Linked DNA regions of Homo sapiens. The protein of the gene in region 2 interacts with the protein of the main gene of each other region in a pairwise test. Each region holds a gene or a part of one and is shown on either strand. Other genes may lie near its edges. The genes, in order: ZRANB1, KIF9, HMBOX1, CCDC125, MID2, PRICKLE1 and OOEP.

Region 1 (3,500 bases), on a different chromosome or scaffold from region 2:
AAGTAAATGAGATTACAAAGGAAATCAGTTGTATTGAAGTAATAGCTACCAAAATACTAAACTAAATTTGTGATATATAAGAAAATACATTTTAATATAGGTAAAAAGTTGGGGATAATTGATTTAACTTGAATTAAAACCAAATTCCCATTAAAGTACATGGACCATTCCCAAGATCATGGACCCTAAGTTAAGAACTCCCAGCCTACGGAGATGGTTGAGAACCATAAGGTTGAAGGAGGTGAGAAGGTGAGTGGCAGGCTTCAGGGGCACATCCTGCTTAAGGATGGTGGTGGAAGGGGTTGTTTGGGGGCTAAGTTTCTTTTAGAATGTTTGTGGTAGTCAGGGTCCAGTCCAGGTGGTTTTTGGAAAGGTCTTTCCAGGTTTTTGGAAAGGGCCTGAGAGCTAGCTGATGGGAATAAGCTATTTTTGAATTTACTTTGGGGGAGCCATTTTAACTATGTTACTTGAGAAATAGTCAATTATATTCTGAAAATATTTAATATTTGGTTTTCCATGTTTGAGTGTTGACTAATGGTTGGGCTCATGGAGTTAAGATATAGTGAGAATTTTCATGGTTAATGGTAATCTTGGCCAATAAAGTCTAGTTGAACTGAATTTCCACGTAGGAGTTTTTAAATTTTTTATTTTTTTCTTTTCTTTTGAGACAGACTTTCTCTCTGTTGCCCAGGGGAGTGATCATGGCTCACTGCAGCCTTGACCTCCCTGGCTCAAGTGATCCTCTCACCTTTCAGCCTCCCCAGTAGCTGGGACTACTGGTGCATGCCACTAATGCCTAGCTAATATTTTGGGGTTTTTTGTAGAGGCAGAGTTTCATTATGTTGCCCAGGCTGGTCTTGAATTCCTGAGCTCAAATGATCCTCCTGCCTTGGCCTCACACAGTGCTGGGATTACAGGTGTGAGCCACTGCACCAAGCTGCAGTTTCAGAATAGGGAGTCAGGTAACTGTGCTGGGTATGCAGGGTTTTTGAAATATTATTTCTTTAATAGCAATAGCAGTTAGTTGTCTGCATATATGATGTAGATAACATTATCATTAAACCTTACTCTTTGAGAAGAAGAAGAAGGGGCTGGAAGACCTGTTGCTTCACACCCCACTGTGGCTGGAAGGCTACCTTTGGGATAATCGTCCAGGTTGGTGACATCAGGGAACAGGCTCACTGTGGGTTCCCACGGTATTCTCTTTGGGGTTTTTTTTTTTTTTTTTTTTTTTTGGCAGAGTCTCTCTCTGTCACCCTGGCTGGAGTGCAGTGGCGCGTTCTCAGCTCATTTCAACTTCCTCCTCCCGGGTTCAAGTGATTCTCATGCCTCAGCCTTCCAAATAGCTGAGACTACAGCTAATTTTTGTAGTAGTATTTTTAGTAGAGACAGGGTTTCATCATGTTGGCCAGGCTGGTCTCAAACTGCTGAGCCGAAGCAATCCACCCGCCTCGGCCTCCCAGAGTTGGTGGGATCACAGGCGTGAGCCATTGTGCCTGGCCTTGAATTCTGTTTGTTACTCGCAGATGCTCAACTGTGATTTTAGAATTCTGTGTATGTATTTTTATTTAGCTCCACAAACTAGATATGACTGAAATGTGAGGTTAAATTAAATCTTTGCAACATTTGTTGCTATTTAGCATTTTAAAAAGAATAAAAAAATAACAAAAGAAAGTTCTAGCCTTCTTTGGTTTGTTGTTTTCTTGCTTAGAGGCCTGTGCAGTAGTGCTCCCATCTCACTCCTGTCAGGCTGAGCTTCAGAGGTTGGCAGTCTGTGTTTAAACTTGCAGATGCCAAATGCTTTTTTAAAAACTCAAGAGTGGTAACAAATGGAGAGGAAGAAAGGGCTTGAGGTCAGTGGGAACTAACCCTTTAAATACCGTGCTTTTTTTAAGTCCAAGTTAGGGTACTTGAAACTTGTGGTGTGGGAGAAGAGTATTTGCAGTTTCCCTTTATCAGCTGTGATTCTCTGCTTCTAAAGAATGTTTTTATTGTGTGCACGATGGTTAGTCTACTGAGGTTTTCTGTCCTCTCTCCTCTTCCTGTGATGTGTCTATGAACAACACCCTTTTCCATACATTTTTATGTGCATCTTTGAGTATTTCCTTGTGATAAATTCTTAAAGAGAATTACTGAATCAGAGGATAAAACATTTTTGTGACTGTTACTGAAAACTTATTCTGGTATATACTTTCATTGGTAAGGAAATAATACCAGTGTATTTTAAGATTAAAGAAAACCTTGAGTTATTGGGAAATTTTGCTGATTTCTTTTAAATACTGTTGTTTTCTGCTTCCACTTATGATACATGAGATGAGAGGAAGGTTTCTTTTGTATTTAAGGTGTCTCAACAAGCAGCAAAGTGTATTCCAGCAATGGTGTGTCCTGAACTGACAGAACAAATCCGGAGAGAGATAGCTGCCTCTCTTCATCAGAGAAAGGGGGATTTTGCTTGCTATTTTCTGACTGACCTTGTAACATTTACATTGCCAGCAGGTAACTCCAAAATCTAACGTAAAAAGACTTTTTTATTTTATTATAGTTACATTTGTGTATGTAGGTGAAAAATGTTTCTGTTAGAAAGCACATAACATAGCTACTGTATGTGCATCTTAAATTACTTGACTGTCTTATATATGCTGGAAGTGAGCATACAGAGGATTACTTGTTAGGAAATGCGTCTGCTATCTGAGAGGAAGACAGCAGTTGATAGTAACGGATTTCTTTGTGGACCTCAGATTATTTTTTAAAAATCTGTTGTACTCTTTTATTTTTCTCTTTGGTTTTATTTTAGAATATCCTTTAAAAAAATCTCCTTTGAAAAATTTTCCCTTTTCATGCTTGTGTGTTATTTGAAATTAGATAGCTATATTGGTTACCTGGTATTAAGAGATGGGATTAGAACATGAGCTTTTGATGGGTAGAGTCAGGTTATTTGAATTGAACACACTGCATCCTCTTGAATATGTCATTCCTTTTTTACTCATTTATTTCTACTATGTTTGTGAAGGAACTTTTCATTTTTCAATTCATTGACAGTTGAAAACATCCTCCAGAATGCGTTTTGTCAGTTGGCATTGAATAAATACACCAAACACCAAACGTTTCTAAAATCTTTCATCTGAGATTCTGAGATCTGTTTGTTTTGTTGCTGTTTTTTTTTTTTTTAGATTGAAACGGGGTCTTGCTCTGTTGCCCAGGCTAGAGTGCAATGGGCGTGATCATAGCTTACTGCGCCTTCAACTTCTGGGCTCAAGTGATCTCCTGCCTTGACCTCCTGAGTAGCTAGGACTATAGGCACATGCCACCCACCCCTGGCTAATTTTTAATTTTTTTGTAGAGATGGAGTCTCGCAGTATTACTCAGGCTAGATCTCAGTGTTTTTAATTTTTATGTTCAGACAAACGGATTTTTACAAATTGTAGGAGATAGTAACTAAGTTTTCTGAAACTGGAGGAAGTTTCATTTGAAATGCACTTGTTCTGAGTATTTAAGCTTAC
Region 2 (3,500 bases):
TCTTTGAATGTCTTCTTGGACTTGGCTTTCTTCCCAGGTTTGGTAGAGAAAGGGGCGACTCCGAGTCCAAAGTTTTGTCCTTCAGGCTCACCCACTAGGTGGCCATCAACATCCACAAGCCCCGCCTACATAGAGAGGCCAGCCAAAGGTCTGTGAGTTAGATTAAGGGCTTGGACCCCTTGGGGACCCACATGTATATGGCCCAAGGCTCAGGGTGGACATGTTCACCATACACACCAAGGTTTGACAGCTGCTGATGCCAGCCTCAGGCTGTCCCCTGTAGAGCGGTCCCTGACCACTCTGCCAAATGTCCACTTTCCACATGCACCCCCTCACCAGTATGGCACCTCATTCCATACTCTGGGGATCTTAAAGCTTATTTCCAACCTAATTCCAGGAAATCGTCTTTAATATTATTATCCATGTCTCTACCTTATGGAAATTATTTTTAATTCAAAAGTGGTTTACTCTTAACACAGGTCACCTGTGTTCATTCTGGTGTTACCTTTATCTGTTGCAATCCTAGCTCTGGTTTAATGCATTAATACTTGCTGGCTCTGCAAAGGTCTGAGGATGGGAAATCTGAGGTGAGTGCTGTCGGCAAGTAGCAACTATGCTTACCTTCTGGATAGCAGAAATGGCTGCAAAGTCATTCCTGTCAATGAGGGTGTACTTCCTGCGCAAAGTGGACTCCACTTCCTGTTCCTGTTGGCTTGGGAGACAGCAAGAGAGAACAGCTTGTACCTGGGGCCATGCTGAATCCACTGGGGCAAGAACCAAGTACTGGGGTTAAAAGTCATATGGGTGAGGCCCCTTGTGTGGGGCCACACCTTCATCATGAACCAGACCAGACAAAAGGACAAAGGACTCACTTCCCCCTGCCCCATTGCATATACCCACTGTCCGACCCCCATACCCACAAGGGCTACCTTATGTCATGTGTGTCTGCTCCAAGATGACACTTGATAAGGACCGTAAGCTTCACTTGGGACCATGTGGGGTTCTGTCTTAGGTTCTGTCTCTAAGAGGCCACTTGGAATCACATGACCAGCTTTAGTGACACCACCTAGCATAAGCTGCTCAGACTATGGGTATGTTTGCACCCAAATAAACCACAAATGCCTCCTGAGGTGGGAGTGTGTGTTGCAATATTCACAAGGTGAATATTCACAATGCCCTGCTCTGGGCACTCTCAGAGCTGGCACTCCATAAACACCTCCTGTCCAATTAATGAACTCACTGAATATCCACCAGGGACCCAGGCATGCCCCCAAGGACTCTGATTTGGCTCTTCATCCACAAGCAAGAAGAGGAGCTCTTGGAGGCAAGTGCCCAGATGGCAGGAGATGAAAATGGCAGCCTGATGTAGGAATGAGGTAGGGGTGGGGGTCTCTCACCTCAGAACCACCCGGAACTGGTTGAACACCTCCTTGATCTGTCTAAGGCTGATTATCTGGAGGGAAGACAGCAAGGCAGAGGTTAGACCAAGGGCACCTCGAGGGACCAGGGGGCATCTATGTTAGTAGAGAAATCAAGACCCCTTGGCTGACCCCTGGACCATCTGTCTCGAGAAGAGGACGTGTGCACACAGCCTCTCAGCGAAGTGGCAGCCAAGCCCTCCTCCAGAGCAGAGAAACACCTGATTAATAATTTTAAAACTAAGTATTTGCTGAGGCTATAAAAACCACCTTTTCGAAGTGGAGACCTCTATAAAATGAAATGATTCTATACCTTGAAAATACCTTCTAAAGGTTTTTTTTTTTTTTTTAATAAAATGTACTTCTCAGCTTTCTCTTACTTCCAAAAGGTTCTGCCTGCTGTCTTCAGATGGAGCCCATTTATGGTCCTGTCTGCATGGGCACAGACACACACACGAGGCTGGAGGAAGGTTACTGGCCTCCCCCCAGCCTAAAGCCCACAGCATTCCCCTTGATCAAGGGTTAATTTGGGACTGCCCCTCCTGTGAAGGCCAGAAGAGTCCATCCCTTAGTTGTCCCAGGCCTGCTTCTCGGAGCTGCCCACAGTAACAGCCAGGGGGGTCTGCCCATGTCTCCAAGAAGAGGGGTTTGATGGACTGCACTGTGAAAACAGGATGCAGCCTTCCCCCTGAGGACCCTTCCTTGTGGGGTGGTTTCCCCCTCCTTGGCCCACTCCAACATGGGCCCTGGGGTCTACCTTGTAGACAACCAGCATGACCACCATCCTTCATCAGCTTCATTCTGCGGACACAGTCAAGCACCCCAGGTGCAGCAGCTCAGTTAATCCCCACTCTGTTTCCCTCCCCACTAGGCAGGTGAGGCCACTGAAGTACACGAGGTTGAGTATTTTGCCAAGGTCACTCAGCAAAGAGGCAGCTGAGCTGGGATTCAATCCTAGAAAGCCTGGCTCTAGGGCCTGTGCTTGTGCCCCTGAGATGAGCTGAAGGGACCCTGACATCAAGAGTCCAGCACCACCCTCCACCCACTGCACCCATTCACATGAGGCTCTGAGGCCAGCAGAGCATGCGTTGGGGTGTGCCCAGGACTGGGAGGCCCAGGCTGGCTGAGCATAGTGGTCACAGAGGGGTTCCTTACGTCGATCTCGTCCAGTGTCCCCTCCAGGTACCTCCGCACCTGGGAGTTGATCTCAGCAATCTGGATTTCATCCATGGGGTCATAGGTCACAAAGGTGCGGTTGGTCTTGAAGGAGGATGAAGAACATGTGGATAAGCAACAAGAACCTGAGCCCACAGGGGAGTGGCAGGGGCCATTCTGAGAGGCAAAGTGGGGAGGCTGGGCACAGGCCCTGGCTGCCCAAGCTGGCTCCTTCCCTTCATCATCGGGTCCTGCCAGAGGGCCTGACACAACAGGCCAGGTGCTTGGGTCAGAGAGGGATAATGGGGTCGGGGAGGAAAGGAAAGACCCTCAGACATGGGTCCTGCTACTCCAGACAGAGGCTCTGCTGGCTGAGTCCCAGCAGACTCTGCAGCATGAGAAAGGCGAGGACGGGAGGCATGCGCTGCCTCTGCCTCGAGGCCCCTCAGGACCGTTGGAGGACTCTGCTCCCAACCCCTGTCCTCATGGACCCTTGCTGCTGCCCCTTTCCTGCCACTGAGCCTGCCCCCCAACCCCGCCCACCATTGGCCTTGACCCATGATGCTGTCTGCCCCTAGCCCCAGTCCCTCTAGTCACCCCCTACCCCAGCACCTCTGCCCTCCTTCTTTGCCTCTAGCCTCTTACCAGGCTGTCATGGATAGCCAGCTCCTGCTTGAGTAGTGCTAGTTCCTTCTCCAGGTTCTTGACCATTCTCTGCCGGGAAACATGGTAGGGTGGGGGCCGACAGGAAGGATCATCAGAGAAGCTACCCTGTCTCTTCCACAGCAAAAGTACAATTCCTCATTCTGTGCCCAGACATCCTGGCCATTCCTGGATCCACAGGGTATGCTTTCAGCTTCTGGTGATTCCCTCCCGACTGGTGACTCTTCCCTAACTGGGGTGAGTTTAGGGTCTGGGAGGACCTGA
Region 3 (3,500 bases), on a different chromosome or scaffold from region 2:
TGGATCAGGTACTGGTGACAGAATGAGAGGATAAATTACTAAAACAAAGTCAAAAATAAGTATTTTTAACCTTTGGGACAAAGCTTACTTAGACCATACTCCTTATTAAAGGAAAGTTAAATCTCAGTAGTCTCCTATACAATTATTCATTATTTTTGATGAAAAGAAGACTTCAAAGAGTTTTTCCAAAATATAATACAAAGATCTGAATTCAAAAAATATTTATTCCAACATTTCTTAAATTACTGGGGACACTATTATAAGTAAAATAAATTGACAGATGCTAACTCCAGCTTTATGAATTCTCAATGCTAAGATGACCTTATTTCTATAATACAGCATTTATGATATTCTAAAGTACTTTTAGAGATAGAACCAAGATACCAAGTTACTTGTTTGAAATGAAAACTGTCCCAGTCTATCCAGAGTTGATGTCTTCCCTAAGTTTGGGAGATCATTCGTAGAAAAAGGAGACACATACCTTTCCATAACAGCCAGGCACTCCTTTCTCCAGGTAAATCGACTCCCTCGTCGCAGTCGGAAAGTACCAGATGTGGCAGAGACTGGGGGAGGCGTTTGTCTCCATTCAGGGTCCTCTATTGGAATGGGGGCTGGTCTCATACTTAGTGTAGCGCCTGAAATAAACAAGACACTTTTAGCAAATATCTTGCAGTTTATTTAAAACAATATAACATCTACTTCCTATGGGACTAGGGAAGTATGGTCTTTGGCTTAGTGACAACTTAATCAATGTATCTTTCTCTGAAAAATTTCTTTTGAAATTCCTGCTTGATAGTTATACTCTTTTTGAACAATATACCTCAGATGTTCAGAATCTTTTACTAACCATTCAAATAAGTTATAAGCTTAAGGAATTTATGCAGGTAGGAGACAAACTTAAAATAACCCTAATTCTTGTAAACTCTTTTCTTTTTTAAAGAGTGAAATACAGCATGAAAGAAAATAAGATGATATTTGATATGCTTTTTGTCTACTAACTAAATCAGGTCTCCATAGGTCTACCTGTTGATGCTATACTAGATTCTGTTACCTCCTGAACATAATAAAATTTCAATGAAAAATATCTATAATTGAGACATTTTACTAATTCAGATTACTCTTTTCTCAAATAGCTTGAACTGCCAATGATGCATTTATTCATTCATTCACTATTTAACAAATCCCTTTCAAGTGGCTTGCTCTAGGCTAGAAGCTAAGAATAAAACCAGGAAAGCAACATTGTCTGTGACCTCCATGAACTTATTTCATAGACTTTCAATGTAACTTGGTATGCTTTCATAGAGTTCAGTCCCTGGCTACCCCACTCTTCTTTCACTCCTTACACTGTTAAATTCATCTTCCCAAAACATAATTATGATCATATCGGTCTTCTAATCAAAAACCTTCAAAAAATTCTCTCTGCCTGTAGTTTAATTCAAATGCTTAACACAGGTGTAGAAAGACATGTTAGAACATGTAGGTTTATGCAATATTAATAAATATGTTAATTCTATGTTAATGATATTAATATTTATTTCTTCCTAATAGAATTAATACTCTCTTTATTGTACCTTGCAAATAATACCATGGATAGCATTTCTACTTCAAGACTTACAGATCTATTGTAGATCCCCTTCTTAATAGCTACATCTTTAGATGTATTCTCTTACACAGATGTCCAAAATGTTAATCAATCCTGATTTTGCTTTTCAAACCTATTGTCCTGCAGTCTTTCCCATCTCAGTAAATAGATACCCACTCTTCAAACCACTCAGCTCAAAATTCTCAAATTAATCTTTCACTTCTCTAATTATCCCACCTATACATAACTAATTCATAGGCAAGTTCATTTTATCTTCAAAATATTTCCAGTATCAGATCAATTTTTATTCCTTGCACTGCTACTACTTTTAGAACACGTCAGCATCATCTTTCACAATCATGGTTTCCTGGGACAAGTTTCAAAGACGGCTCCTCACAGTAAGTCATACCTCTGGCTAATCATGCCCTTGAATCTGGGCCAGTCCTGTGACAGGTTGTTGAGCAAGAAAATCTAAACAATTCAAGGCTAGGTTATAAGATGCTTTGAAATTTCTGCCTAGGTCTCCTAAAATGCTGGCTCTGGGGGAAACCAGAGGCCATATAAGAAGTCTGACTAACCTGAGACTATGATGTTGTAAGGAAGCCCAGGATAGCCATGTGGAGAGGCTACATGGAGTGAAAGATGCTCTGACAGTCCCCAGGGTCTTCTGCCAACTCCACCCAGGTGCCAGCATTTGAGAGAAAATGCCATCTTGGACACTGTAGCCACAGCAAATGCCACATGGAGAAGTGCAGAAACCAGGTGATAGACAGAAACAAGGCCTCAGACATTCAGTCCCAGCACAGGAATGTGGACATCAACCTCCAAGGTCCCTAAGGATCCCTGCCTCCTGGTCTGCACACCTCCGTATAGTCCCTTCCCACACTGCACCATGATTAGGCTGTGCGACCAACAGCATGTGGCAGTGATGGTATGTCACTTCAAGGATCAGAATACAGAAGACACTATGACATCTGTCTTGGATGCTTTCTCTCTTATTCACTCAAGGGAAAACTAGCTGCCGTGTGAGGACACTCAGGCAGTGGATGGTGAGGCCCATGTTGTGAGGAACTGATGTCTCTGACCAACAGGCAGTGAGGACCTGGGACCTGTCCACATCCACATGAGTGAGTTTCCAAGTGGACCATCCAGTCCCAATGACTGCAGCCCAGGCTGACAGCTGGACAGCAACCTCTACAGAACTCTGAGCCAGAAACAACCAGCTAAGCCATTCCTGGATTCCTGATCTATGAAAACTATGAGATAATAAATGCTGGTTGTGTTAAGCTGCTAAATTGTGGATAATTTATTGTATAAGAATAGATAACTAATAAAAATTATCACAATCATCCTCAGTTGTTTATTTCCCTTTATCCCCCAATACACTATTATTAATTATTCAAATGTATAAATTTGGCAGCAAAAAATTTCCCTTTAATATAGAGACTTCACTACTAATAAGAATGAGCATCTTTTCCTGTTTATTGACCATTTATATCTTTTCTTGTGAATTTCTATCTGTTGTTCCTTTTTTAGGGGGTTATTCTTCTTATGGGTGCAGAGAAATCATAGCAATTGCTAGTCATACAGAATGCAATTTTTTTCTGGTCTGTCATTTGTTTTTTATAGTGTGCTTTGTGATCTTAATTTTAATACAGTCAAATTTGTCAGTCTTTTGTATTATGGCCAATGGGCTTGAATATCACTGAGTATCTTTATATCTTTCATTTTGTGTTTCAGCCTTTAATATGTATGTGATTTCTTATAGCATGTGATGGAAAGTAAATATTTAACTACTTAACATTTCTGCTTAAACAAGTAAGTTTGTCATCATATAATGCTTTAGAGATTTACAGCCCACCCTAAAACAGAGTTGGCAAATTATACCCACTGCCTATTTTTGTAAATAAAGTTTTAT
Region 4 (3,500 bases), on a different chromosome or scaffold from region 2:
ACACCCGCCTTGGCCTCCCAAAGTGCTGGGATTACAGGTGTGAGCCACCGCACTGGCCCAAAAATTTTTTTTTAAATTAGCTGGTGGCACACGCCTACTCAGGAGGCTGAGGTGGGAGAATTGCTTGGCTCTGGGAGGTGGAGGCTGCAGTGAGCCATAACTGTGCCTCCACACTCCAGCTTAAGCTACAGAGCAACATTCTATCTCAAAAAATTTTTTGTTCGGCCTGGCGCGGTGGCTCATGCCTGTAATCCCAGCACTTTCAGAGGCCAAGGTGGGCGGATCACTTGAGGTCAGAAGTTCAAGACCAGTCTGGCCAATATGGTGAAACCCCATCTCTACTAAAAATACAAAAAAATTAGCCGGGCATTGTGGCGTGTGCCTGTAATCTCAGCTACTCAGGAGGCTGAGGCAGAAGAATTGCTTGAACCTGGGAGACAGAGGTTGCAGTAAGCCGAGATTGCGCCACTGCACTCTAGCCTGGGCGACAGAGAAAGACTCCATCTCAAAAAAAAAAAAATTTGTTAATTTGTTAATCAAAAAGGTATCATATTTGCATATTATCTAGGCACATCCTCCTGTGTACTTTATATATATTTTCAATTGTCTCTAAATTACGTATAATATCTAATACACTGCCTATACATCACTTCATTCCCGTGGATTTAACCTCGTACTCTGAGTCCTGCAAATTCGTCTTTGTTTTTGGAACACTGTGGATTTTTTTTTCCAAATATTTTCAACCCTGGTTGGTTGAATCAACCAATGTGGAACTCACGGAGCTCCTATCCCACCTCAGGCCACGCACAGCAGGTTTGGTTAGACTGTACTTGCTTTTAGGGCAGAAAAACAAAACCGGCACCCTAGCAGGACTCCACAGCAGATACAGAGGAGTTATGCCTGCCTTTCTTCCCAGCAGAAAACTTCTCCTGGCAAAAATGCCTACAGATCAACTAGTATCACTGAGCCCTCCCCATGTGGAGACCACCCTAGTCACCTACCTGGTGACAGTGAAGCAGCCGGGAGAAGCAGAAATGCTCAACCTTGTGCCTCCAGGACAGAGTGCAGTTAAGAGGGACTTTCACCACCAGGCATTTCAAAACAGCTGCTTTGCTATAGCTATTTAGAAATATTTCATCCTTCTCTCAAGGCTCATTAAAAAAAAAAGTGGGGTGTGGGGGTATAAACATGTCTAACATTTTTCTCTAAATATCCTGCTGTTTAAGTAGTTGCTTCCAAAACTTCGAAAGACATTTAATCTCAGTCTTGCATTTGTTGTGGAGATCTCTCTATTCTTCCACTATTAAACCTTATGTAGACACCAAATAAATCTGACCATGTATTAAGGAATTTCTGTCATTTTTAGGATCAAAATGCCATATATTTTCAATGTTAAAAACAAATACCCTTAAAAGATTTGAACAGATATGTCATCAAAGAAGATACATGGATGGAAAGATGCTCAGCATCATTAGTTATCAGGCAATTATAACTTAAACCCCAGTGAGATTCCACCTCACCGCACTGACAATTCCAAGTGCTGCTGAGGATGTGGAGTAACTGAAACTCTCATACATTGGTGATGTGAGTAAAACATGGTACAACCACTGTGGAAAACAATTTGATAGCTTCTTACAAACATGTGACCTGGCAACTGCATTCTTCAGGATTTACTCAAGAGAAACAGAACCCCATGTCCGTACAAAGATGTGTGCATGAATATTCATACATCACTCAATTTGTCAAAAATTGGAAACAACCCAAGTGTCCATCTGCAGTAAAACAAAGAAACTGTGGTCTGTCCATACAACAGAATATATTTGTCAGTAAAGAACAACGCATTTCTGACATATGCATTACACATGCAATGCATTTCCGATATATGCAATGAATTTCCCAGACATTACGCTAACAAAAAAGCACATACTAGGCCGGATGTGGTGGCTCCCACCTGTAATCCCAGCATTTTGGGAGGCTGAGGTGTGAGAATCACTTGAGGCCAGGAGTTCGAAACCAGCCTGGGCAACATAGCGAGATCCCCATCACTAATTAAAACAATAAATAAATAAACAACAGCACATACTGTATGAAATACTGGGAAAACTAACACACAATGATGGTAAACAAATTAATGGTTGCTTGGCATTGGAGAAATGACCACAAAGGGCATGAGGGAAGTTTTCTGGGGTAATGGAAAACTTCTATATCTTCACCACAGTGGCCACTTATCAAAACTCATTAGGCTGGGTGTGGTGGTTCATGCCTGCATCTCAGCAGTTTGGGAAGCCAAGGTGGGCGGATCACGTGAGGTCAGGAATTCAAGACCTGCCTGGCCAACATGGTGAAACCCCATCTCTACTAAAAAATACAAAAAATTAGCCAGGTGTGGTGGTGCATGCCTGTAGTCCCAGCTACTTGGGAGGCTGAGGCAGGAGAATGGCTTGAACCCGGGAGGCAGGGGTTGCAGTGAGCCGAGCTTGCACCACTGCACTACAGCCTGGGCAACAGAGTGAGATTCTGTCTCAAAAAAAAAAAAAAAAAAGATGTAATAATACCTAGCACTTGTTGCCTGCTTTCCATGTGCTAGACAGTTTTAAGTGCCTTAGATTATATTTATTCTTTACAAACACTCTGCAAGAAAATACCATTATTAAGTACGAAAATTAAACTGAAGCAGACAGAGACTGAGTAACACAGTCAACCAGAAGTGGAGATGGATTTTTTTTAAGAGACAGGGTCTCGGGCTGGGCACAGTGGCTCACGTCTGTAATCCCAGCTCTTTGGAAGGTCGAGGTGGGCGGATCACGAGGTCAAGAGTTTAGGACCAGCCTGGCCAACATGGTGAAACCTCATCTCTACTAAAAATACAAAAATTAGCCAGGTGTGGTGGCAGGTGCCTGTAATCCTAGCTATTCGGGAGGCTGAGGCAGGAGAATCACTTGAAACCAGAAGGTGGATGTTGCGGTGAGCCAAGATCGTGTCACTGCACTCCAACCTGGGTGAAAAAGCAAAACCCTCTGTCTCAAAAAAAAAAAAAAAAAAAAAAAAAAGAGAGACAGCATCTCACTCTGTTGCTCATTGCTTAGGCTGAAGTGCAGTGATGGCATCCACAGCTCACTGCAGCCTCGACCTCTTAGGCTCAAGTGATTCTCCCACCTCAGTCTCCAAAGTAGCTGGGACTACAGATGTGTACCACCTTGCCAGGCTAATTTTTAATTCATTTTGTAGAAACAGGGTCTCGGGCCAGCCAGTCTTGAACTTTTGACCTCACGGGATCCTTCCACCTCAGCCTCCCAAAGTCCTGGGATTACAGGCATGAGCTACCACCCCTGGCCCAGAGACAGATTTTTAATCCAGATATCTGATGTCAGAGCCAACACTCTTAGCCACTGTTTTGTATTATTTGGAGAATTTCAATGAAATTAACATCAGAGTATACCAAGTTTCTATTATTTATGACTTCAAATAGAACTTAAAGTAAAAGTCTAAAATATCTAGTT
Region 5 (2,636 bases), on a different chromosome or scaffold from region 2:
CTATGACCCAGCTAACTCTCTCCATCTTCATACTTTTGATGTGACCTTCATTCTTCCAGTTTGTCCAACATTTACAATCTGGAACAAATCCCTAATGATCCTGTCTGGCTTGCCTGCCCCAGATTTTATTGATTACCCTGAGCGGCAGGAATGCAACTGCAGGCCTCAAGAATCCCCTTATGTTTCTGGGATGAAAACCTGTCATTAAGTTTCAGGAGAGTATATAATTCACTGGCTCTCTAGTTCAGCAGTTCTTCCCCTCCTACACCTAAGTTAGCGTTCAATATACGAGACACAAAATAAAGTTTGTTTGAAGCATCCAAAATAACTAGATATTGCAGATTTAATTTTTGTGCATTAAAGCTTGTATTTGAATTAATTTATTGAGTTTTTCAGAACAAATTATCTGAGTAGTCTGCGTTCAAGCCATTGGAGAAAAATTTAGAAAATGCCTCTGTTGTCATTGGAGAATTAAAAATTCCCAATGATTTAAGAATATAAATTATATTGGAAGCAATTAGGGTAATTCTAGTTAAATAATGTGGAAAGGTGCCCTGAATAAGGAGCTAGCAAGCCAGAGCGGGGGGTGGTCAGCCTTTCTAGTACTGGCCAGTTTGGCCATGTAGAATTTTGAACAGTGTCAAATTATCACATATTATATTTTACTTTTGATGAAAACCTATCATCAAGGGTTTGTTAGGAAACCATGAATGTGTATATGTAATATATAAAGTGAACATATATGTACTTTATATATATTCACTTGTGTATGTATGTTTATGCATATTCACTTTATATATTACATATACACAAAAAACTTTTTTTTCCAAACACCACCTCGAACTAGAACAAAAAACTTTTTAATTTGCTAATTTGAGTGAGAAATATACTGGAAGGGAAAATAAGTTACACCATCCATTTTTGTCCCCTAAAGGAAACATCAAAATCAATCAACATTTATTTCCTCCCTCTATCCATCATTGCCTTCCTCCCTCCTGTCACGCACACATACACATGCAACCATGACACAGATAATGGGAAGAGCTTTATTGGATTAGCAGAGATTTACAGACAAGATTGCACAAGAGATGCTGTTGCTGGATAGAAAATTGATCAGGTAGAAGTGATGCTACCTACTTGAGGATGGCCATCTGAATTGTTAAAAATTCTGTCATAGACTATTAAAAAAAAAGTTTTACTACTCCCAAGTACACACAGTTATGAGAATTAGGCTTTTAAAAAGTTGCACAGTGAAGGCTCTTTAGGAACCTACTTTACTTAATCAGTAAAAATTGAGTATTATTGATGCACCAACTATTCCCATATAAATGTACTTGCTTTTTCAGATAAAACACTTCTGAAGTGCTCAAGAATGTCTGAAAACAGTTTGTTTTCTTAAATAGGATAAATAATCATTCCTTTTGCAATCTTGTTTACAGTATTCATTCTCTTAGCCAATCCCTCCACGCAAATGGAGACAAACTTCATCCCAGTCCTAACCAGTATAGTTGAAGGGAATGGAGCCTTGTAGTCTATGATTTTTTTTTTTAAATTTCCATCGAAGGGATTGGGGATGTCAGAGAGCCAGAGCTTTCCCCTTTCCAGGAGCTAAGTTGGCTTCGGAAGTCTTCTGGGATTTGTGAAAATATTACTGTTGTAAAATTACAAAGTGGTAGCCATAACAACTCCCTCAGATTGGAGACTTGAAATGTCAAAACTCCCCTCTTCCTTTCCCCTAGTTTGGTGGATGCTCATTTATTAATTCATTCAATAAACTATTAGATGCCAGGTACCAAACTACTGCCATGGGAGTGCACATATTAACAAAATGCTCTACCTGCTGCCAAATGGCTTACTATTCTGTGGAAGAAACAAAGTATATAATCCTCCCCAATAACAGTTATGTATTGTTTGTTCACTTAATGTGGAAGGCAAGACTGATGCAGACACACAAGGAAGGCTCAAAAATATAAATCTAGCAGCAATGTCATCTTTTTTGATTTTAAATACCATATGTGCTTACTGCTAATCAGGAAATGAACAACCTCAGTAAAATTCATCAGTGCTGGTAAATAGTTTGCTGTAGTGGAAAGCTCATAACCTTTGGATTCAAATGATCCTAGTTTCTGTACCATTTATTAGCGTTGTGACCTAGGACAAGTACCTCACTTCTCTGAGCCTGTTTCCTCCTCTGTAAAATAATGTCTACTTCACAAGGCTGTTTCAAAGGTTAAAAAAGATAGCATATGTAAACTGTCTTAGCTCAGCGCTTGACATTTCCTAAGTGTGCCATAAATATTAATCTCTTTCCTTACTCCCAGCTCCAATACAGCGTAACAGTGCTTTAAAATGTATGTCCTTCATTTCTCCTTCATTTCTCAGTCACCTTTGTCTCTTCCCTAGGGCATATCCCCAAATTCTTAAACAAAAAAAAATGATTTTTTTCCCCTTCATCAAACTTTTCACTGGCTCCCTTAGCACCCAGTAGAAGGTCCCAACTCCTTACAGAGTCTGGGTTTTCATGTCCCTGTTTGCTTACACAGCTTAATCTTTTGCCACTTTCCCCCTCACATTGATTAAGGTAGCCAAGTTTAACTATTTACACAACTATTCACACAAGTTATTCTCTGGGCCTG
Region 6 (3,500 bases), on a different chromosome or scaffold from region 2:
TTCTCCTGGTAGGAGTTTTAGAGTTACTAATTAAATTCTTAACCTCTGGTTCTCTTCCTTTGACATGTGGGAGTGGTTTTTTCAAAATATCCAAGACATTTTCTGACTCATTAACACATCCTTTTTTATTGAGGAGTCAGAGGAATACGCCTATGTTTAGAAAGCCTTTCCTTAGTCAAGACATGAATGAGTCGCACCTGTGTGAAATGATGCCTTGTTTAAAAGGTCATAACCTCCCAATGGTAGTGTAGGAAATGAGGTCATCTTCACTTCTTGTTCAGGGTGAATGAAAGTTAAATTTATTAGTTGGAATAATATATGTGTGGCATTGCTCCTACTGCTAATAAAGATTGTAGCTATGAGGTGCTTGCCCTTCATTTATGAACTGTTACAATGTTAATTTTCTCAATGTCCTATCATTTATAAAAGAAAAACCATAAATTTTAATCAAGTTTTATTTTATTTTATTTTTTTCGAGACGGAGTCTCGCTCTGTCGCCCAGGCTGGAGTCCAGGGGTGCAATCTCAGCTCACTGCAACCTCCGCCTCCCGGTTTCAAGCGATTCTCCTGCCTCAGCCTCCCGAGTAGCTGGGATTACAGGCACCCACCACCACGCCTGGCTAATTTTTGTGTTTTTAGTAGAGACGGGGTTTCACCATGTTGGCCAGGCTGAGCTCAAACTCCTGACCTTGTGATCCATCTGCCTCAGCCTCCCAAAGTGCTGGGATTACAGGTGTGAGCTACCACGCCCGGCCAATAATCAAAGGTTTTAATAGGTAGTATTTTCCAACACTCAGTATTTAGAGTTGAATTGAGATAGTCACTGAAAAATGACTTAGTCTCAGGCTGAAAGTGTATGGCTTTTCACTGCCTTTTACACTTGTTTAAGCAAATGAGAACTTTTTTTTTTTTTTTGACATCCTTCCTGAGATGGAAGAATGTTTATTGAGGCAGAAGAATTTTTGGAAGTCTGACATGTCAGTGTGTATGTGTGACTAGACTCTGGCTTTTAGCCATATGACCTTGGACAAGTCTCTTGACTTTCCTGAATCTTGTTTTCTCTAAAATCATTGGGTCGGGATAATTATCTATAATTTTCTTTCTTTACATCATTTTTTTGTGGGTGAAAGGCCCAGGTATAAAAAAGCTCCATCTCTCCATCTGGTTCTGAAAGTTCTGCTATTATTATTTTTTTCTTTGTGCCCTGGGATGAGGGATGATTTTAATAATCAGAAGATACAAAGAACATAAATGGTGATAGCAAAGTTCCTGGGTTCTAGGGCAGGGAATGTTGTCTTGACACTTTTATAGCCCTTCATCCAAGGAGGCTTTTTATTCAGAGGAGGATTTACATCTTACTCTGCCCATAGCAGGCTGATGACATTTCACACATACTAGGCACTGACTGCATAACTTTTCAGCGAATGCCTGCTTATGATGCAATTAAACATTAACAGTCACCAAGCTGGATTTTATTTTCACATAGTACTGTATTCAGTGACTGTTTGTTGAAGGAACTCACTGATGAATGTCTGACTGACTTTAGCCCTTAGTAAAGGCTTGAGGATTTAATGTGCAGTATAAGGATTTAATTGTGCTATTTCTATTTTGTGTGTAAACTCAGTTTAGTGTCTTACAAAACATAATTAGAAATCTGAAACCTAAGCAGTTTGGCTGAGTGGACCCACTCTCAGGAGGCAGCACTGCCTCAGTTGGAAAAATTGCTTAGGAAATACAGGGGTGCCGAGTGGGGTCTTGAGCCATTTTTCCTGGGGCATAGTAGTGGGCAAGGCAGGTAGCCTGACCCCGACACTTCTTTCTACAACTTACAGTATGTCACAAGGATTTGTGGGCAAGTTAGAAAGTCAACACATCAACTTTCTTGAGAACTTTTCTAAGGAATCGACTGTAGAGAGGCACCTTTTAAAGGCTCCTGGAAATAAACTAGCTTTGGTGGCATGTTCTGAAATTCTGAGCTGGCAAAGAGACTACTACCAAATTATATAGCTCTAAATTTTAAATTTCAGGGGGCCTGGGGCCTGGGGGTGGTGACAGTAGTAATTTGGTTACTTTCTCTGGGCCCAGCTGTCTGTTAACAGCATTCAATAAAAGCTCTGGGTCGGGGGTAAGAGAAATGCATTCAGGTTTTAGATGTCTTTGTTTTTTCTTATATTGTTCACAGCAGCCATTGTTTGATGTCCTGTGACTGAGAAACCAGGCTTTAAACTTTATGCCTTTGGAGATGGAGCCCAAGATGAGCAAACTGGCCTTTGGCTGTCAGAGAAGTTCCACATCAGATGATGACTCTGGCTGTGCATTGGAGGAGTACGCCTGGGTCCCCCCGGGCCTGAGACCAGAGCAGGTAGGAACTTCATCATCCTATATTTACTCTTTGTTTTTCAGTGTGAGTTCAGACTTTAGAACATTATTTTGTAAATGGATAGAACATCACTGAGATGCTGGAATACCACCCTCCTCAGTCCTTATTCTTCTTTGTATGGCTTTGAAGTTTTACTTTTGAAGGTCATATTTAGTTTCTCAATGGAAGTTTCCAATCTCGTCGTACCCATGGTTCCAGAAGCCTCATAAGGATCCCATTTTTGCTCTAATGAATGAAATCCAGAGTACTACATATGCATTGGTTATGTGTATTTCGGATGAATCCCTCTTGAGAGTGAGAGGAATTTCCCTTTTAAAAAACTTCTGTGACAACAAAAAGGCAATAAAAGAAAAGAGAAAAGTTTCCATGCCAGTTCTCAGCAATGCTTTTGCTTTGGAAGCGAGATAGTGAGCTATCAGAAACCCTCTGAAGTGTTACTGCTTAGACGTTTGACCTTTGATAACTTTGCATATAAAAGAGCCTGTCACTTACACCACAGGGATTGGAAAAAAAATTAAAGAGTTAATTTTATGCTTTGTTTGTATTGTTATTTTAGGGAAGATGAGAACATTCCATATGCCTATTTAATTTTCCCAATATCTTTACAATGATTAACTTGTTGAAAATCACTGGCGATATTATTAAAAGAGCAGAGGCATCATTTGAAAATAAAGTTGACAGTGGGGTATGTGGTTGCTTTGCTTCTGATGTTAGGGTTCTGTTTCCTGTAGGGTGGGACGTTTTATGAGAATAGGGTATCCTTATTTATCCATGGCATAGCACAGTACCTGGCACGCATGTAGCTGATATTCAGTAAGTGTTTATAACTGTAAAAAGCTTCTAGAGCTGATAGAATGGGGAGAGGGTGGAGTGCTGGTGAAGCAGTTAGAAAAGCAATATTTTGACAAACTACTTAGAGAGAATCCCTTCTTACAACTTAGAGTGGGTAGGTTTTGTGTGGTACTAAGGTATTGAAGTAGACAGGCCCTAAATTCCTGTCTCCTGTCTTTTTTTTCTTTTATTCCTTCTCAGCTCTGCAGTATCCTTTGCAGTACTCATTAAGGGATGTTCCTTTAAAGACATCAGAAAAACAAACAAGCAGAAATTAAGTTTTCCTTTC
Region 7 (3,100 bases), on a different chromosome or scaffold from region 2:
CATGTGGAGTCTGGAACATGCTTTTCACTATTTTGAGTTTTTTCTTCTATGCTGGCTGTGGTGGCTCACGCCTGTAATCCCAGCACTTTGGGAGGCCAAAGTGAGAGGACTGCTTGAGCCTAGGAGTTCAAAACCAGCCTGGCAACATAGTGGGACCCTGTCTCTACAAACAGACAAACAACAACAACAACAAAAAGAGCTGGAAAATAGCTGGGTGTGGTGGCAGGTGCCTGTGGTCTCAGCTACTCAGGAGGCTGAGATGGGAGGGTCGCTTAGGCCTGGGAGGTCGAGGCTTCAGTGAACCGAGATCGTGCCACTGCATTCCAGCCTAGGCAAGAGAGTGAGACCTATCTCAGAAAAATAGAAGTTTTAAAACAAACACATAGTTAATTGTAAGAACGAAATAGTATATTCAGCAGATACTATTCTGAAACAACCAAACAATATTTCTACAAATATAGTAGAAAATGTGTAAGGACATGCATGGGGATGATATATACACACTAGCTTCAGGATGATTTCCTCTGGAGAAGGAAAGGAAAGATGCTTGAGTAATATCTGTTTTAAAAACAGAGGAGTGAGGCAAATGTGGGGAAATGTCAACATCTGTTAAACTCGGGGAGGGTACATGGCCGTGTTATATTACTTTTTTGGATGTGTGAAACCTTTCATAATCCAAATTTTTAATTAAAATTACAAACATTGGGAAAAAATGTCCATCGATAATGGTTGTCTTAGGATACTGGAAATAAAGGAAAATTGTCTAACTTGCTACATGTTCTATAAGACCACCTCTGACGTGTTGTTTAAAACATGACACACTTGCTTGAATGATTTAAAAATGGTAACCATCCGGAGAGTCAGAAGATAACAACAGGGAGCAGAACAGAGAAAACTGACACATTGAACAAGCCTGCCCTGGGTCCGATATACCTATCTTTGGGAGGCAACGATGAAACCTTAACCTAGCCAGCAAAGGTGATTCCCAGTCTATTAATAGAGTCGTCAATTCAAACTCACACTGTTAATCAGCTATAAGGTGGGCAGAGGACTTTCAGGCTAAGCATACCTTACGAGCAGAGATGACGAAGGAGAGCATTGGAGACCCAACAGGAGGCCAAATGAATACTAGTTCAAGGTCAAAGAGGCAATCCCGGCGATTGAAGCAGCGCAGGAAGTGTCCAATGGTGCCGCTATGCCGGGGCGTCGCTTGCACCCGCTCACCCCGACGCGGTGCGAGGCGCCGCCGGAAGGGGCGGAGCGGGTCGAATATGGTAAAAGAGAGCCCGAGCTTCGCGCCTGGGTCTGGAAGAGGTCTTGCGAAAGCCGCCTCGAGCGCGCTCCGCGGCTGCTGGTCCCAGTATGGTCGATGATGCTGGTGCCGCTGAGTCCCAGCGGGGCAAACAGACTCCGGCCCACTCCCTGGAGCAGCTGCGTAGGTTACCACTTCCGCCGCCACAGATTCGCATCCGGCCCTGGTGGTTTCCGGTGCAGGAACTGAGAGACCCTTTGGTGTTCTACCTAGAGGCATGGCTGGCAGACGAGCTCTTTGGTGAGCGACCCCAGGTGTGCTAGTGGGCTGTCCACCTCCAGTCTGAGAGAGGCTTGGCAGAGCAGCTCTCTACAGTCTCTTTCCCAGATTCGCAAGCCAGGAGTGTTGCAGTGATGCCCACCTTCCAGTTCTTCCCTTCCCTGGCCAACATTCCCTTCAAATCCAGCTTCTAACCTGCCACCGTGCAGCCCCTCAGAGTTTTTCCTTACTTGTTTAGGCCCAGACCGAGCCATAATTCCAGAAATGGAGTGGACGAGCCAGGCCCTGCTGACAGTGGACATAGTGGACTCAGGGAACCTAGTCGAAATCACCGTTTTCGGGCGGCCCCGTGTACAGAATCGGGTGAAGAGCATGCTCCTGTGCCTGGCATGGTTTCACCGAGAACATCGTGCCCGAGGTGAGGGTCTTTGAGAACCTGCATGTGGAGGAAGCCACGAGTGACCATACTGGCCTTGCTCGGTTTCCTTCCATCCTCCCTTAACCTTCTCAAAATTTCTTGGTTTCCAGACCCCAGGGAGCTAGCTGTACGAAGTTTGTTGGGAGGGGATCCTGGGGTAGGACCTTGGGAAAGTCAGCAGAGATCTGATAGATTCAGACCCATCACTGCCCAAGTCAGCCTCACCTGGGTTACAGCACTATCGCAGATCTTTCTCTCCTCCCCAACTCCCAGTCACGGAGTAGTTCGAAACAGCAAACACTTGTCCCTGTCCATGGTTAGTATCAACTGCTTCTCTTCCAGCTGAGAAGATGAAACACCTTGAGAAGAACTTGAAGGCCCATGCATCAGACCCCCACTCTCCCCAGGATCCTGTTGCTTAAGACAACATAGTTACTGTTGGGAACATCTTAACTTTCTAACTTTTGCTGCTAAAGTTGAAGAAAAGCAAGTATAGCATTCTTAAATCCCCGTATTCCTTTTTCCTGTGTCTTGATGGATTGTGGTTTATTTTGTTGCAAGAGTGAGTTTGAACTATTCTAATAAAGAAATGGCTATTTTGCCAAAAGCATTAAGATCTTCACACACTTATAATAAAGCAAATTTATAAAAGATTGACTCCCACTCATGTTTTGATATGAAGGGTGGGCAGGTGATAGTTTTGTAGGTTTTTGTTTTTGTTTTTTTTTCCTGAATTCCCATCATTTTGAAACTCCTAATCCTTTTATGATTTTCTGGTCAGAGAGAGGCCCTCACCCACAGGGAGCGGATATGCAGGGGCAGATAACCTCACAAATGGTGATCTGTTTTGTTTTTACATAATTGGTCCTCAAACTTTAAAGCTTGTAAGAAATCACCTTGGGAGCTTGTTAAAACACAATTTCCTTGGCTCCTTCTCCAGAGAATTCTGATTCAGTACTTTTGGGGTGGGGCTTAAAATTTCATTTCTGATGAGCTCACACATACTACTAAAGCAGCTTATCTGAGGCTCTCACTTTGAAGCTGGTAATTGATCCCCCGAAGAGCACCAGCTGTGCGTTTTCCTGGAGTGGGGCATCCATTGGGCAGAGGATGACGTTGCAAGAAGCAAGCCTGGGCGGTCAGCGTTCATT

The links.
Region 1: the proteins of KIF9 (region 2) and ZRANB1 interact in binary tests that used the Homo sapiens proteins (3 or more experiments, as listed by UniProt).
Region 3: the proteins of KIF9 (region 2) and HMBOX1 interact in binary tests that used the Homo sapiens proteins (3 or more experiments, as listed by UniProt).
Region 4: the proteins of KIF9 (region 2) and CCDC125 interact in binary tests that used the Homo sapiens proteins (3 or more experiments, as listed by UniProt).
Region 5: the proteins of KIF9 (region 2) and MID2 interact in binary tests that used the Homo sapiens proteins (3 or more experiments, as listed by UniProt).
Region 6: the proteins of KIF9 (region 2) and PRICKLE1 interact in binary tests that used the Homo sapiens proteins (3 or more experiments, as listed by UniProt).
Region 7: the proteins of KIF9 (region 2) and OOEP interact in binary tests that used the Homo sapiens proteins (3 or more experiments, as listed by UniProt).

What each region holds. Positions count from the first base shown.
Region 1 is NC_000010.11:124,969,623-124,973,122, forward strand, and holds part of ZRANB1 (ubiquitin thioesterase ZRANB1), read left to right. Parts: intron 1-2,342; coding exon 2,343-2,496; intron 2,497-3,500. UniProt on the Homo sapiens protein: Ubiquitin thioesterase, which specifically hydrolyzes 'Lys-29'-linked and 'Lys-33'-linked diubiquitin. Also cleaves 'Lys-63'-linked chains, but with 40-fold less efficiency compared to 'Lys-29'-linked ones.
Region 2 is NC_000003.12:47,244,800-47,248,299, forward strand, and holds part of KIF9 (kinesin-like protein KIF9), read right to left. Parts: intron 3,288-3,500; coding exon 3,219-3,287; intron 2,679-3,218; coding exon 2,574-2,678; intron 1,454-2,573; coding exon 1,398-1,453; intron 713-1,397; coding exon 622-712; intron 126-621; coding exon 1-125. UniProt on the Homo sapiens protein: Essential for normal male fertility and for progressive motility of spermatozoa.
Region 3 is NC_000008.11:29,015,895-29,019,394, reverse strand, and holds part of HMBOX1 (homeobox-containing protein 1), read right to left. Parts: intron 636-3,500; coding exon 482-635; exon of another isoform or gene 1-481. UniProt on the Homo sapiens protein: Binds directly to 5'-TTAGGG-3' repeats in telomeric DNA. Associates with the telomerase complex at sites of active telomere processing and positively regulates telomere elongation.
Region 4 is NC_000005.10:69,322,802-69,326,301, forward strand, and holds part of CCDC125 (coiled-coil domain-containing protein 125), read right to left. Parts: intron 1,912-3,500; exon of another isoform or gene 1,002-1,911; intron 1-1,001. UniProt on the Homo sapiens protein: May be involved in the regulation of cell migration.
Region 5 is NC_000023.11:107,926,866-107,929,501, forward strand, and holds part of MID2 (probable E3 ubiquitin-protein ligase MID2), read left to right. Parts: coding exon 1-208; 3' UTR 209-2,636. UniProt on the Homo sapiens protein: E3 ubiquitin ligase that plays a role in microtubule stabilization. Mediates the 'Lys-48'-linked polyubiquitination of LRRK2 to drive its localization to microtubules and its proteasomal degradation in neurons.
Region 6 is NC_000012.12:42,471,247-42,474,746, reverse strand, and holds part of PRICKLE1 (prickle-like protein 1), read left to right. Parts: intron 1-2,182; 5' UTR 2,183-2,230; coding exon 2,231-2,362; intron 2,363-3,500. UniProt on the Homo sapiens protein: Involved in the planar cell polarity pathway that controls convergent extension during gastrulation and neural tube closure.
Region 7 is NC_000006.12:73,368,055-73,371,154, reverse strand, and holds OOEP (oocyte-expressed protein homolog), read left to right. Parts: upstream 1-1,257; 5' UTR 1,258-1,362; coding exon 1,363-1,552; intron 1,553-1,769; coding exon 1,770-1,949; intron 1,950-2,291; coding exon 2,292-2,371; 3' UTR 2,372-2,600; downstream 2,601-3,100. UniProt on the Homo sapiens protein: Component of the subcortical maternal complex (SCMC), a multiprotein complex that plays a key role in early embryonic development.